Linked DNA regions of Homo sapiens: region 2 is linked to region 1. Evidence: fine-mapped expression QTL. Tissue or cell type: rectum. Region 1 holds a variant in brackets; the other region holds the start of a gene. All regions are shown on one strand. Distances are between the middles of the regions.

Evidence for each region. PIP is the estimated chance that this variant, and not a neighbour inherited with it, causes the effect.
Region 2: HNRNPH1 starts here. The variant in region 1 is fine-mapped to the expression of HNRNPH1 in rectum (CEDAR, PIP 0.95).

What each region holds. Positions count from the first base shown.
Region 1 is chr5:179,579,537-179,587,637 of GRCh38, forward strand. It overlaps RUFY1 (RUN and FYVE domain containing 1), which reads left to right. Exons shown (of 18, transcript NM_025158.5): 7 at 1,411-1,476; 8 at 6,260-6,329. All of the region lies in intron 4 of LOC128966623 (a long non-coding RNA gene), which reads left to right. Among named protein-coding and RNA genes, the nearest start is that of RUFY1-AS1, 20 kb to the right of the region's middle. The variant AAT/A (reference allele first, on the strand shown) is at 3,875.
Region 2 is chr5:179,620,330-179,628,430 of GRCh38, forward strand. HNRNPH1 (heterogeneous nuclear ribonucleoprotein H1) reads right to left here and starts at 3,342. Exons shown (of 14, transcript NM_001257293.2): 1 at 3,266-3,342; 2 at 2,708-2,835; 3 at 913-1,068; 4 at 563-706. The coding sequence starts at 2,804. All of the region lies in intron 4 of LOC128966623 (a long non-coding RNA gene), which reads left to right. RefSeq lists enhancers at 3,114-3,283, 3,339-3,633, 3,383-4,168, 4,169-4,953.

The DNA.
Region 1 (8,101 bases):
GGCCAGGCTGATCTCAAACTCCTGACCTCAACTGATCCATCTGCCTCAGCCTCCCAAAGTACTGGGATTACAGGCATGAGCCACTGTGCCTGGCCTAACAAAATATACCCTTTTCTTCTTCTTTTTTTTTTTTTTTTTTTTTTGAGATGGAATCTCTCCCTCTGTCGCCCAGGCTGGAGTGCAGTGGCACAATCTTGGCTCACTGCAACCTCTGCCTCCCGAGTTCAATCAGTTCTCCTCCTCAGCCTCCCTGAGTCGCTGGGACTGCAGGTGCATGCCACCACGCCCAGCTAATTTTTTGTGTGTATTTTTAGTAGAGACGAGGTTTCACCGTGTTGACCAGGCTGGTCTCAAACTCTTGGCCTCAGGTGATCTGCCCACCTCGGCCTCCCAAAGTGCTGGGATTACAGGTGTGTGCCACCACACCCAGCCACAGAATATACTTTTAATGTCAAAAGCTGAAAATAAACTGAGTATCTACCAGTCAGGAAATAATTGAATTAATTATGGAACATATGTAATATTCCACACTGTGGTATATTTTGCAGACGTAAGAAAGAATAAAGTGTATCTACTGGTATATTGAATGAGACTATACTATATTGAATGAGGAAAGTATGATGCTGAGGAGTACATATATCCCGTTTTTGTAAACAAATCAAAAAATTCCGTGTGTGTGTGTGTGTGTGTGTGTGTGTGTGTGTGTATATTTTTTTTTTTTTTTGAGACGGAGTCTCGCTCTGTCGCCCAGGCTGGAGTGCAGTGGCGCCATCTCGGCTCACTGCAAGCTCCGCCTCCCGGGTTCACGCCATTCTCCTGCCTCAGCCTCCCGAGGAGCTGGGACTACAGGCGCCCGCCACCACGCCCGGCTAATTTTTTGTATTTTTAGTAGAGACGGGGTTTCACCGTGTTAGCCAGGATGGTCTCCATCTCCTGACCTCGTGATCTGCCCACCTTGGCCTTCAAAAGTGCTGGGATTACAGGCGTGAGCCACCACGCCTGGCCAGTTTTTTTTGTTTTTTTTTTTTAATCCAAACTGGCCTAGACTTTAGACTGATGAGCTTCGTGTTTTGAAAAGTCCCGTGCGCTCCTTTCCTTCAGTAGTATAAGGGTTGTGTCGAGCCATTTGCGTGTGGCAAGTTGGTGTTTTCACCTTGCTTGCTCATCCTGAAACCTTGGTCTGCAGGGAGCCCACTCTCCTGGCAGCCTGGCCCTGGAGACGCTGACTACTGTGACCCAGGCTGGCTTTCTCTCTGTACTCTGGGATGTGGATGTTACTGAGCTCTGGCTGTCTCTTGGTTTCTTGAAGACATTGGTACTTCTACAAGGTGATTGGAATATTGGGGAACAGTTACAAAGTATTAACCATTAATAAAAAAAAGTTCTTCCTTCTTATGCTCCTTTTAAAAGGCATGAAAGAATTACTGATGTCCTTGATCAAAAAAATTATGTGGAAGAACTTAACCGGCACTTGAGGTAAGACTCCTTTTTTTTTCAATGTGACAGTTACATACTCGGTATCCTGTCATTGCTTCATGGAACTTCGAGTTGCCACGTATTTATAAATAACTTGTTTCCAAACCAAGACAAAAGGGTCATCATTCAGGCAACATTTATTTGTACAAACTGAAGAAGTATGATTTCTTCTTGATAAACTCTTGGGAAATCTTTATTCTGTGCTTTTTGCAGTTACATAATACACAGAAGTAACTACATTAAACCTTGACTCTCCATTCCTCGCCCCACAGCCACGTGGCTGGAAATCCCTTCATGGCAAGCACTGTTGCTGCTGGGAATCAGCACACAGCACCCAGTGCATTAGGCCAGGAAAAAAGAGTTGAAAACCACTGGGCTAGGCCCTCCAGAGCAATGTACTAGTGATCACCGGCATCTTTATCTTGATTTTTTTTTTTTTTTTTTTTTGCTGGAAATCTGTGGATGTGTTTCATGAAACACTAATCCTTGGAGGTATTTGTGGGGAATGTGGAGAGACATGTTATTCCCTTTCTGAGTCCCCTCTAGAGAGTACATTGCACATTACAGTTCTCCACAGTGGCCACCTCTCCGGCCCCAAAAGCCAGGTGAAGAAGCTGGCATGTTCCTCCCGGTGCAGTTACGGACACATTGCTCTGGGGCTGTTTTTACTTTTCTTTTTTTTTTTTTTGACAGGGTCTCACTCTGTTGCCCAGGCTGAAGTGTAGTGGCGTGATCTCAGATCACTGTAGCCTCGAATTCCCAGGCTCAGGCAATTGATTCTCCCACCTCAGCCTCCTAAGTAGCTGGGACTACAAGCACACGTCACCCCTCCTGGCTAATTTTTGTATTTTTTGTAGAGACAGTGCTCCGCCATGTTGCCCAGACTGGTCTCAAACTCCTGGGCTCAAGCAATCCTCCCACCTTAGCCACCCAAAGTGCTAGAATTACAGGCATGAGCCACCACACCCAGCCTGAGGCTCTTCTTAACTGTGATGTTGGCTATTTTTTGAAAGAGTTTTTTGGTCGATTACTAGTTTATTGAGAGTATTTATAAGAAATAGATATTAAATTTTAGAAAATACCTTTTAGTGTCCGTTAATGTAATCATGGTTTTCATCCCATAATCTACTGATGTGGTGTATTTTATTAATAGACTTCTTCATACTGGACCATTCCTGTATCACAGGAATAAACTCCACTTGATCATAATATTTTTTATTATGATTTTTTGAGACAAGGTCTTACTCTGTCACCCAGGCTGGAGTGCTGTGGTACAATCGTGGCTCACTGCAGCCTCCACCTCCCTGGGCTCCGGTGATTTGCCCACCTCAGCCTCCCAAGTAGCAGGAACTACAGGCATGCACCACTACACCTGGCTAATTTTTTGTATTTTTTGTAGAGACAGGGTCTCACTTTGTTGCCCAAGGTGGTCTCAAACTCTTGGCCTCAAGCAATCTTCCCTGGTTAGCCTCCCAACTGCTGGGTTATAGGCATGAGCCACCTCGCCCAGCCAGGATCATAGTTTTCATAATTCAATTATCCTTTTAACATGTAACCTGGTTGGGTGTGGTGGCTCACACCTGTAATCCCAACACTTTGGGAGGCCGACGTGGGTGGATTACCTGAGGTTGGGAGTTCGAGACCAACATGGGGAAACCCCATCTCTACTAAAAATACAAAATTAGGCAGGCGTGGTGGTGCGTGCCTGTAATCCCAGTTACTCGAGAGGCTGAGGCAGAAGAATCGCTTGGACCCGGGAGACGGAGGTTGCAGTGAGCCGAGATTGCACCATTGCACTCCAGCCTGGGCAACAAGAGCGAAACTCCATCTCAAAAATAAAAATAAAAATAAAAATAAACCTGACTTGCTGAAATTTTATAGTTTTCTTTCTCCGCCATCATATCAGGGTTATGTAGCATTGCAAAATGAATTAGTAAGCTTTTCCTTATGCCTGGGAACAGCTAGCTTCTAGATCATGGGCATTATTTGCCCCTTGTGAATATGAAGCAGCCAGGTGTGATGGCTCACGATTGTAATCCCAGCACTTTGGGAGGCCAAGGCAGATGGATTACCTGAGATCAGGAGTTCAAGATCAACCTGGCCAACATGGTGAAACCCCATCTCTACTAAAAATACAAAAATTAACCGGCATGGTGGCGGGCATCTGTAGTCCCAGCTGCTCGAGGCTGAGGCAAGAGAATCACTTGAACCTGGGAGGCAGAGGTTGTGGTGAGCTGAGATTGCGCCACTGCACTCCAGCCTGGGTGACAGAGTGAGACTCTGTCTCAAAAAAAAATTTATGAAGCTGAAAGCATTTATGAGGCAATACGTTGCTAGCTTTTCAGTTTTTACTTAGTTCATCTGGGTTTTCTTTTGAGGATATATCTTTTCTCATATA[AAT/A]ATATATATATATATATATTTTAAGACGGAGTTTTGCTCTGTCGCCCAGGCTGGAGTGCAGTAGCGCGATCTCGGCTCACTGCAAGCTCCGCCTCCCAGGTTCACGCCATTCTCCTGCCTCAGCCTCTCGAGTAGCTGGAACTACAGGCACCTGCCACCACACTTGGCTAATTTTTTGTATTTTTAGTAGAAACTGGGTTTCACTGTGTTAGCCAGGATGGTCTCGATCTCCTGACCACGTGATCCGCCCGCCTCGGCCTCCCAAAGTGCTGGGATTGCAGGTGTTGAGCCACTGTGCCCGGCCAGTCATTTATATTTTTATTTATTTTTATTTTTTATTTTATTTTATTTTTTTGAGACAGAGTCCTGCTCTGTCGCCCAGGCTGGAGTGCAGTGGCATGATCTCCGCTCACTGCAAGCTTCGCCTCCCAGGTTCACGCCATTCTCCTGCCTCAGCCTCCCAAGTAGCTGGGATTGCAGGCGCCCACCACCATGCCCAGCTAATTTTTTGTATTTTAGTAGAGACGGGGTTTCACCGTGTTAGCCAGGATGGTCTCGATCTCCTGACGTTGTGATCCGCCCGCCTCGGCCTCCCAAAGTGCTGGGATTACAGGCGTGAGCCACCACGTCAGGCCTATATTTTTAAGAAAAATATACAATTGGGGGGTATTTTCTAAATTATCAAGTTGGCACAGAATTGACAATTGTATACTCTTAAAACTTTCCATTCCCTCTGTATCTTTTGGTTTTTTTCCCTTTTTCATTTTGTGTCTTTGTATTTTTATATTTGTCCCCCGGTTCCTAAGCCTTGGTTCATTAGCCTTGCTAAGTTTATTTCTTTGTCCCCCACTCACTGGCAACAGGGACTGGTCTTTGGCAGCATGACCTGTTGCCCAGAAGTACAGGCTCTAGAGCCAGATTCCCTGGGTTCAGATGCCAGCACCCCTTTGTAGATATGTGAACTTGAGTGAATTCTTTTATATAAAATTATGGCTGCCTTGTCTGTAAAATGGGCTAACAGTAGGATCTACCTCATTGAATTGTGGGGAAGATTAAATGAGTTGATGCATTTAAAGTGCTTAGAGGCCAGGTGTGGAAGCTCATGCCAGTAATCTCAGCAGTTTGGGAGGCTGGGGCAGGAGGAGGATCACCTGAGCCCAGGAGTTCAAGATCAGTCTGGGTGACATAGTGAAACCTCACCTCTACAAAAAAATACAAAAATTAGCTGGGCCTGGTGGCAAGGTGGGAGGCCAAGGTGGGAGGATCATGAGCCTTGGAGGTTGAGGCTACAGTGAGCCATGATCACACCACTGCACTCCAGCCTGGGCGACAGAGCAAGACCCTGTTTCAAAAACAAAAAAAAACAAAAAAAAGTAGTACATGTTATTAAATAATATTTTTTAAATGGGGAAGGTGTAAAAGGGATTTAAAAACACCTTGGGACCGGGCGCAGTGGCTCACGCCTGTGATCCCAGCACTTTGGGAGGCCGAAGCAGGCAGATCACGAGGTCAGGAGATTGAGACCATCCTGGCTAACACAGTGAAACCCCGTCTCTACTAAAAATACAATTAGCCGAGCATGTTGACGGGCGCCTGTGGTCCCAGCTATTTGGGAGGCTGAGGCAGGAGAATCACCTGAACCCAGGAGGTGGAGGTTCCAGTGAGTTGAGCTCGCGCCACTGCACTCCAGACTAGGCGAAAGAGTAAGACTCTGTCTCAAAACAAACAAACAAAAAACACCTTGGATCCTTCTACCCAAAAATACTAATACCTTGTTAATGAATTTTACTTTAGGTATATGACTGCCAACACATTTTGGTTTCTATCACCATTTGTGTTGGGAGAAAAAAATTCTCTTTCCAGATGACTAAAAAAGAAATAGGCCGGGCACAGTGGTTCATGCCTGTAGTCCCAGCACTTTGGAAGGCCAGGGTGGGCAGCCTCACCTGAGGTCAGGAGTTCGAGACCAGCCTGGCCAACATGGTGAAACCCTGTCTCTACTAAAAATACAAAAAAATTAGCCAGGTGCAGTGGCACGCACCTGTAGTCTAGGCTATTCGGGAGGCTGAGGCTGGAAAATCGCTTGAACCCGGGAGGCAGAGGTTGCAGTGAGCCAAGATCACTCCACTGCACTCTAGTCTGGGCGACAGAGCGAGACTTTGCCTCAAAATAAAAAAAGAAAGATTAAATTTTCGGGACAAAACTTATTGAAAAGTATGTTGCAAATGTATATTTAGAATTCTCATCTTCTCTGAGTTAATTGGAGACCCTCTGCCTTTCCATTTCATACAGGAAATCTAGGAATCTCTCTTACTGTTTACAGATTGAGAAAACAGTCAGCTTGTATAAGTTTATGTTTACTTAATATTCTTATTTTCTACAGCTGCACAGTTGGGGATCTTCAAACCAAGATAGATGGCTTGGAAAAGACTAACTCAAAGCTTCAAGAAGAGGTTTGTAAGTTTTATTGAAATTTTTAGACAAAACAGAATGACCCAAGGTTAAGAGAATCTGTGTAGTCGGTCTGCGATAGCAGAGCTTCCTGCTGGTAGGAAGGGGACTTGCTAGCCTCCAGCTACCCCACGTGGGACAGGAGAATGTCTGTGTTCTGCTCTGTCCGAGGCTCCCAGTGAGACACTGCAGCGGATCACGAGCCAGTTCTAAGTGACTTAGATTTTATCACCTCAAAGTCATCCCATAGAAGGAAATTGTTCTTTGGAAGAGCCCAGCTTGTGTTGTGGAAGTGCCGTGTCTTCCTCTTTTTCTGCCCTTCCCATGATGCCGTGTGCCTCCCTGCTGCCCCAGAAAGCACAGACTCTGTCATAAGGAATAAGTATCCAGCCCACCCCTTCTGCTTTGGCCTCAGGAGCATGCAACCAGCCTCCCCACAGTGCGGTCTTTCTCTGCTTTCTCACTAGGAAGAGAGAATGAAAGGACAGGACAAAGGAGGGCTGAGCCGAGGAAGAGAGCTTGCTGCCAGCTGCCCGGCAGTCTCCTTGCTGGACACATCTTGTCTCCTGTTAGCAGGAGGGGGGTGCTCAGCCCTTCTGAGGCTTTCCACAGGTAGCAGTCCCCGGCTGCCCAGGCCTCCCACCTAGAAGGACAAGGGCTCTGAGAGGGGCTTGAGAAGGAACACCTCCACGGCATGGAGGTGGGTTACAGCAGAGAAGAGAGCCTCAGAGCCCATCTCTGTAATGAGGGACCCCGTGTAAGCCTCCCTTAAAGCTGACTGCTCCCTCCTGAGGCGCCAGCCCTGAAAGGCCTTCAGGAAAGGAGCTCAGATTTGTGTGAGTAGAAGGAAATTCAAGACGGTGTCACAGATGGGGGTGTCATGGGAGAAGCTTCATGGAACTTAGGATTGGAGGCTTCACAGTCACCTTGGTAGGCAGGCCTTTGAGCCTCAGGTCAGGCAGGTCGGTGGTTGAGCCTCACTTTTGTCACCTCCAAATTAGGTAATAATACATCCTTTACTGTTGCAAAGATTAAGACGAATATCTGGTAAATGTGCTCAGGACAACACTTGCCACGTGGGAGCACTCGAGTTGTTTGATTTTAGAACAAGCAGATTCCCTGCATCTCAGTCAAGATGGCGTGCTTTGATGAAGCTCCAATTGAGCTTTTGAAACTAAGCAGAGTTATGTGGGGTTTTTCTGCTTTTTGAGACAGGGTCTCACTCTGTCACCCAGGCTGGAGTGCAGTGGCGCAGTCATAGCTTACTGTAACCTCAGACTTCTGGGCTCAAGAGACCCTCCTGCCTCAACCTCCCAGTAGCTGGGACTACAGGTACACACCACCAACACCCGGCTAATTTTTTAACTCTTTGTAGAGACGGGATCTCACTTTGTTGTTCAGGCTGGTCTCAAACTCCTGGGCTAAAGTGACCCACCCACCTTGGCCTCCCAAAGTGCTAGGATTACAGACATGAGTCACTGAGCCCAGCTTCGGTTATGTTTTCTTTTTTCTTTCTTTCTTTTTTTTTTTTTTTTGAGACAGAGTCTTGCTCTGTCTCCCAGGCTGGAGTGCAGTAGTGACGTGATCTCCGCTCACTGCAAGCTCCCAAGCTCCACCTCCCGGGTTCACGCCATTCTCCTGCCTCAGCCTCCCGAGTAGCTGGGACTACAGGCGCCCGCCACCACGCCCGGCTAAATTTTTTTTTTTTTTTTTTTTTTAGTAGAGATGGCATTTCACCATGTTAGCCAGGATGGTCTCAATCTCCTGACCTTGT
Region 2 (8,101 bases), 41 kb after region 1:
TCAAAACACTTATTTCAGATACTGAGACTACAAGCATTCAAACTACTCTCACTACATCTGATTTTCAGTAAGTTTATACCACACAGGTTAAACCAAGTCTTTCATAAACCGACTTTTGCATTAAAGAGAATTAGACCATTAGATGCTTCTGGTCACATGACCCAAATACGTGTCTCTTGCAACACAGACACTTGCCATAATTTACAACAACCTAATTCATCGCACTGATGATCTGCTGGTAAAGGGATCTTACCTTTAACTTGAGGTACTTAGCTGGACACCAATGTGAGGAAAGTAGTTAAGCTGTTGAGGGCAATCCTCAATGAAAGATCTACTCTGAACTATAATACTAAATATAGGCAAAGTTAACATTTTGGAAGTACTTCATTTCCACCTTTAAGATGGGCTTAAATTATTTGAAGGTCTCTAGGAAGAAAACATTAATTCATTGGCAATTTACAACCTACTGAAATACCTAAGCTACTCAACTTTAACGTCTATTAAATCACCTTGCCATAAGCTAGCCAAAACTCACTGCTCAGCAACAAACATGACTACATACCTGAGAAGAACTGAACAATTTCTTCCTTGCTACATCCAAAGGGAAGTCCTCTAAGCCGTACAAAGCCATCATTGGCCGTGTCAGGACTATTTGGACCAGTATGCTTCAACACCCAATCCATTTCAACGTTGTTTGACTTGAATACTGAAAGAGGTGCTTAGAATTAGTCACTTTTGGAAAATTAGATAACAAAGTTCAGACTTCCTGGGTCTTTAGATAAGCTAGGAAGAGCTGCCACAAACTCCCTTAGATGACCATTTCCATGCAGTCAAATACCTAAAATTCAGAAGGGGTGAGACCTCTATTGTTTAATGCTTTATTTACTGTAACTAGGGCAATGTAAATCAAACCTTCAACATATCTGTGTCCCATAGTTTCTCTGTCTTTTTTCAGGGCCAATTTGACTTCATCTTCTGATTCAAGTTCAACAAAAGCCTCGCCACTTGGTCTGCCTTCTCTGGTGTAGATGAAACGAATACCTTGAGCCCCATTTTGAATTTTGCAGTCTGGAAAGAAAACAACCGTTAATACAGAATTTAAAACCTAAAACCACCTCTGGGTGACACAGATGAAATGTCTATTCCATGTCCCCACTACAAATTACATAACTTGTGAAGCCTATATATACTGACCACGATATTACCAACTCCTAAAACTCCAATTAAAAAAAAACAAACTCATTCCTAAGGTGATATATTTCCAACCCATCAACAACATACAATATTCAAAGCAGTTTCAGAATGAATTTATCTCTTTAGTCCTTGCTACTCATGTCTACATCACACATCTTTTATCAATTTCTCAGAAGATTATCAAGCCTGGACTGTGTGACTTTACGGCAAACATACTTCGTTGCGAGCTGTTTTGGTCTGGGGCATTTATCCGTTTTACCTTACCAGTAGCCACATTACGGTTTCTCATTCAAATTCAAATTACAAGCCCAATACTCACCTGAAAGGGGATCAGTGTTACCAAGCTAAAATGCTCCAAGTTGCACAGCTGAAGCCAAACCCAGTGTTGCCCCCTGCAAGGCGGCTTCCAGCGTACTTGGTTCTTGTTTTACAGGTCGCTTTCCGTTACCAACGCTAAATTCAGATAGTAAGTCAATACTACAAACGTCTTGCCAAAAGCTGTTAATTTCATCCAAATAGAATTTTAATCAGTCTAATTTCTTTTTCCCAGTCTAATAATAGGAACAAGGACATTCTGATAGAAAATATTCAGGAAACCTATGTACTGCAAAAACACTTCCCTGGGCTTCAGTGTCTTCAACTGTATAGTGAGCCAGATTAAGAACTAGATAAGAAAACACTCTTCAATTATCAAATCTTGATTAGGAAAACTGAAATTAAGACGTGACATTTTAACTTTCCGAAGAATGCTCCTTTTTAAGAAAACACCAAAACTGGAAACAAGAGGTTACACTTCAAGATATTGCAAAACATTACTATTATTTGTCTAATCACTCGGCCATTTTCTCAAGATTGAGGAGGAAATCCCACCTATGCCAATTTATCCTTTCGAAAAAAGACACCCGGGCCAGGCGCGGTGGCTCACGCCTGTAATCCCAGCATTTTGGGAAACCGAGGTGGGCGGATCACTTGAGGTCAGATGTTCGAGACCAGCCTGGCCAAAATAGTGAAACCCCGTCTCTACTAAAAATACAAAAATTAGCCGGGCGTGGCGGTGCGCGCCTCTAGTCCCAGACACTCGGGAGACTGAGGCAGGAGAATCGCTTGAACCCAGGAGGCGGAGGTTGCAGTGAGCCGAGAACGCGCCACTGCACTCCAGCTTGGGTGACAGAGACTCCAACTCAAAAGAAAAAGAAAAAAAGACACCCATAAAAGAAAAGCTGGTGTTCAAAGATAGGTAAAGAAAACAAAGTCTGCCAAACCTGCCGCACTCCCCCAAGGGCCAGGAGGACGGGCGGGGCTTTCGAAATTTCCATTGCGTAACAGCGGGCCGCCGGGCGCGAGCAGCACAGCGGTGAGTGTAGTCGCCCGCGCCTCGCCAGGGGGCGCCCCGGGTCCCACCCGGCCCGGCCCGGCCCGGCCCGCCCCGCCCCGCCCCGCCCCAGCCCGGCCGCCCGCCAGCCCGCCCGCCCCGGCCTCGAACTCGAACTCCCGCGTCCTAGTTCTAACTCACCAGAAAAAAACCTCTGCACTTCATCGGCCGAGCAAGACCAGGGCAAGCCCCGGACCTTCACCACGAATCCCTCTCCACCTTCCGTGCCCAACATCATCGTCTCTTACGCGGTCCGGCGTCGAAACAAACTGCAAAGCGGGGAGGACCAGAACTGAGAGCGCCAATTAAGCTGTCCTTCGCCTCCGAGGCGCGCCCGGGCCCGCACCGCCCCCCCACGGAGCAAAAACCGGGCGGATGCACCCACCCCGGCGACTCCAACACCTCCTCGTCCGGCGACCGGACCCCCAAAGCTGTCCTGAGCAACAGCTGTCGGCGCCCCGAACCGTGGGGGCCCGGGCCGAGAGCCAGCGTAGAGGAAAGGAAATGGCGGCGGCCGCTTCCGCTCCGCCTCCTCCGACTTCTCACACAATAGAGTCGGCGCGGCCTGCAGGCCTCAGCGGCGGTGCCGAGATTCAGCGAACCACTCGCGGCTCTCGACGGCAGCCTGCAGCTCGCCAAGGTCCCCGTGGCCCTCCCAGAGATATGGGGACAAACAATCCTCGCAAAAACGGTACCCACCGTGGTCGCTGAACTGCAAGCGAGGACCCACCGCGACTCACCTAGACACGCGACTTCTGCGTGGCTAAGACGAAATGGCCAGCGGGCGCCTGCGCAACCTAAATAAGGTCCCTTGTGCGAGTTCTGCGCACGCGCAGCCAGCTGCCCGCACCGCCCCGTTGCGTCACAAAGAGCTCTGGCGCATGCGTAATTTCAAGAGCCAGCCCACCTCCCGCCGGCGGATTATTACACGCTTGGGTTTTGGGCTCAGCACCCCCACCCATAAACCCGCCGGGCTTTTTGTTGCGCCTGCGCCTTCCCGCGAATATTGAACTTCGGAGTCCTAGCGGTTTATAATTATTTCATGCGCATGCGTCTTCCTTGAAACCGTTCTCTAGCCTTACCCGCCAGCGTGGGGGAGGGGAATGGCGGCCGCCTGTTCCCTATGGGACTGTATAGGAGTCCCGAGCTCTGGGTTGTGATGAGGTGGGCGTCTTTCTACCCCTTGCCCCCAGGCTCTTACCGGCGCGCTCCTGGCCGACCTGAAAGGAGGGGCGCGGCCTTCAGGCGTTCCCACTCCCCGCGCCGCCTGTCTTCCCTTTATCCCCAAACCGGCCGAAGCTGGTCAGCTGCAGATTGTCGAACGTCCTGGGAGCTGCGGGGCTGCGGACGTCCCGCGCCCGAAGCCACCCGTATGGTGCCTGGGGCACGTCCCAGCCCTGTGTGCCTCCACTTCCCCTTACCTGCCGTCGTCGGGCCTAGGGCCCCGGTCGGCGCGAGGTTTCCGTGCCTGTGGCTCGCGCCTGTACCCAGCTTTTGCCTAACGAATTCGCACCCTGTGTACCCCTTGACCCGCCTAACGGTCGGCAGGCCTTGACTGCCCTGGGGCCCTGGCACGAGGAGGGATCGCGAGCGCGGGCTCCACGGGTGCGCGCCGGCCTCTGCGCTCGGTAGGTTACCGCTGCATCTCCCAGAGCAGAATTGGTAAGAGTGCGTCCATTCACCAGGCGTAGACGCTGCATTCGAGGAGGCCCCCGGGTCACCCCATGTGCACACATGCTGCGAGATGACTAATGTTCGTGGTTTCTAGCAGCACTGCCCAAAACCTAAGATGCCGTAGCCTCCCAGGCCTCCCCATGTCTGATTTGGCTGCCTTCCTCACCCCAGCTTTAGTGGACACAGACAATACACAAATTAACAATAAGGTAGTGCTGGACCCTGCCGCAGAGCTACCTTAGCTAGTGCAAGCCTGAGTGCCACCCTGGGAAGATGCGGACAAAGCATGTTTCCAACCCCAGTGCCACAGAGTCCGAATCCAGTTTTGACAGGTTTGAGAAAAAGTAGAGAGGACATCAAAAGAAAGACAGGAGCCCAGAGCTAAGCAGGGCCTGATCTTCAAAGGCCACTTAGGCCTTGGCAAGGGTGTTATCTCCGAGAGAAGGCTTTGGCAGGTGATCAGCAGGGGAGCCGTAAACCCTGTGTAAAGGAAAACTCTTGCTGGATGTGAGGGGGATGCAGATGGAGCAGGCAGGGTGAATGACGGTACATACCAGGCCCTCTACTACAAACTGAACTAGAAGCACACACCTGTGGTACCATTTCAGAAGGCACTTTGGCTGAGGTAATCAAGAAGAGAGTCCGGCCAGGTGCGGTGGCTCACTCGTGTAATACCAGCATTTTGGGAGGCCGAGGCAGGCAGATCACTTGAGATCAGGAGTTTCAGACCAGCTTGGCCAACATGGTGAAACCCCATCTCTACTAAAGATACAAAAATTATCTATGCATGCACACGCCTGTAATCCCAGCTACTCTGGAGGCTGAGGCAGGAGAATCACCTGAACCCAGGAGGCAGAGGAAGCAGTGAGCTGAGATCACACCACTGCCCTCCAGCCTGGGCTACAAAGACTCCCTCTCAAAAAAAAAAAAAAAAAAAAATTAGCCAGGCATGGTGATGCATGCCTGTAATCCCAACCACTTGGCAAGACTGAGGCAGGAGAATCACTTAAACCCAGGAGGCAGCAGTTGCAGTCAGCTGAGATCACGCCATTGCACTCCAGCCTGGGCAATAAGAGCAAAACTCCGTCTCAAAAAAAAAAAAAAAAAGAATAGTAGTAAGGTAGAATACATTTCATACACTTATAGCCAATTCTCTTATATATAAATTGTCCAACTTATATTAAAACAAGGTTTTTAAATTTTTATTTTTTATTTGTTTGTTTGAGACACAGCCCGTCACCCAGGCTGGAGTGCAGTGGTGCAAACATGGCTCACCACAGCCTCTACCTTCTGGGCTCAAACAATCCTCCTGCCTCAGCCTCCTGAGTAGGTAGGACCACAGGCATGTGCCACCTTGCTCAGATTATTTATTTATTTATTTATTTATTTATTTATTTTTTGTAGCAATGGGGTCTCATTTTGTTGCCCAGGCTGGTCTTGAATTCTTGGGCTCAAGGAATCATTCCACCTCAGCCTCGCAGAGAAAGTGCTGGGATTACAGGTGTGAGCCACCATGGCTGGCAATGAAAGGTTTTTTTGTTTGGTTTTGTTTTTGAGACAGTCTAACTCTGTCACCCAGGCTGGAGTACAGTGGTGCAATCTTGGCTCACTGCAACCTCTGCCTCCTAGGTTCAAGCAATTCTCATGCCTTAGCCTCCCAAGTAGAGGGATTACAGGTGTGTGCCACCACACCTGGCTACTTTTTTTTAAGTTTTAGTTGAGATGGGGTTTTGCCATGTTGGCCAGGCTGGTCTGGAACTCCTGACCTCAAGTGATCTGCCTGCCTCGGCCTCCCAAAGTACTGAGATTACAAGCATGAGCCACCATGCTCGGCCAAAGGTTTTTTTAAATAAAAAGTTAATCATCAGCCCACGCGTGGGGCTCATGCCTGTAATCCCAGCACTTTGGGAGGCCGAGGCAGGTGGATCAAGAGTTCAGGAGTTAGAGACCAGCCTGACCAACATGGTGAAACCCCGTCTCTACTAAAAATACAAAAAGTAGCCGGGCATGGTGTCGCGTGCCTGTAATCCCAGCTACTCAGGAGGCTGAGGCAGGAGAATCACTTGAACCTGGGAGGTGGAGGTTGCAGTGAGCAGAGATTGCACCACTGCACTCCTGCCTGGGCAACAGAGCAGGACTCTGTCTTTAAAAAAAAAAAAAAAAATTCATCATCTTGCCTCAGTGGTCTTTATGTCTTGGTATACTTCTTTTTTTTTTTTTTTTTGAGACGGAGTCTCGCTCTGTCGCCCAGGCTGGAGTACAATGGCGCGATCTCCGCTCACTGCAAGCTCCGCCTCCCAGGTTCACACCATTCTCCTGCCTCAGCCTCCCGAGTAGAGTAGCTGGGACGACAGGCGCCCGCCACCACGCCCAGCTAATTTTCTTGTATTTTTACTAGAGACGGGGTTTCACCGTGTTAGCCAGGATGGTCTCGATCTCCTAACCTCATGATCCGCCCACCTCGGGCTCCCAAAGTGCTGGGATTATAGGTGTGAGCCACTGCGCCCGGCTAATGTCTTCGTATACTTCTTACAGTTTACAGAGCTCTTTATTAAGGCTGTTAGCCCTTAGGATAGTTGCCCCAGACATTCTTCTCAGTTTGCTTACCTTTTAATTATTTTTGTGGTTTTGTGGTGGTATTTTTTGTTTGTTTTACAGACAATGTCTTGTTCCGTGCAGTGACACAATCATAACTCACTGCAGCCTTGAACTCCTGGGCTCAAGCCATCCTCCAAGCTCAGCCTCCTGAGTAGCTGGGACTAAAGGCACTTTCAACCAGGCCCGACTAATTTTTTTTTTTTTTGTAGTGATGGGGGTCTCACTATGTTGCCCAGGCTAGTCTTGAATTCCTGGCGTCAAGCAATTCTCCCACCTTGGCCTCTCAAAGCCCTGGGATTATTCTACATGTGAGCCATGATGCTCGGCCCTGATTTATGCCTTTTTTTTTTTTAAGACAGGGTCTCACTTCGTCACTCAGGTTGGAGTGCAGGTATGTGATCTCGGCTCACTGCAACCTCCACCTCCCGGGTTCAAGCAATTCTTGTGCCTCAATCTCCCAAATTGCTGGGATATGCCAGGTGCAATGGCTCACACTTGTAATCCCAGCACTTTGGGAGGCTGAGGTGGGTGGATAACTTGATGTCAGGAGTTTCAGACATGTTGGCCAACATGGTGAAACCCTGTCTCTACCAAAAATACAAAAATTAGCCGGGCATGGTGGTGGGCGCCTGTAATCCCAGCTACTTGGGAGGCTGAGGCAGGAGAATCACTTGAACCCAGGATGTGGAGGTTGCAGTGAGCAGAGATCCTGCCACTGTACTCCAGCCTGGGCAACAGAGGGAGATTCCATTGCAAAAAAAAAAAAAGGAAAAAAATACCAAATAGCTGTGATTACAGGCATGCACCATCACACCCGGCTAATTTTTGTATTTTTAGTAGAGATGGGGTTTCACCATGTTGGCCAGGTTGATCTGGAACTCCGAACCTCAAGTGATCCATCCACCTTAGCCTCCCAAAGTGCTGTGATTACAGGTGTGAGCCACTGCACCCGGCCTATGATTGCTTTTTAATATTTGGACATATAGAAGTTTTAAATTTCTTGATGTCAAAGCCATGGATATGTTCCTTTGAGGTTTGTCTTTAAGTTTAGAAAGCCCTTTCCCATCCAGAGATTGAGCACATATTTGTTATCTTTAGTATCATTTGTAAGACACATTTTGTACAGCTTAGCCTCAATAAGATAGGAATGTGTTTTATTTATTTTCTTCTGCTTTTTTAAAAATTTGTATTTATTTATTTATTTTAGATGGAGTCTTGCTCTGTCACCCAGGCTGGAATGCAATGGCATGATCTCGGCTTACT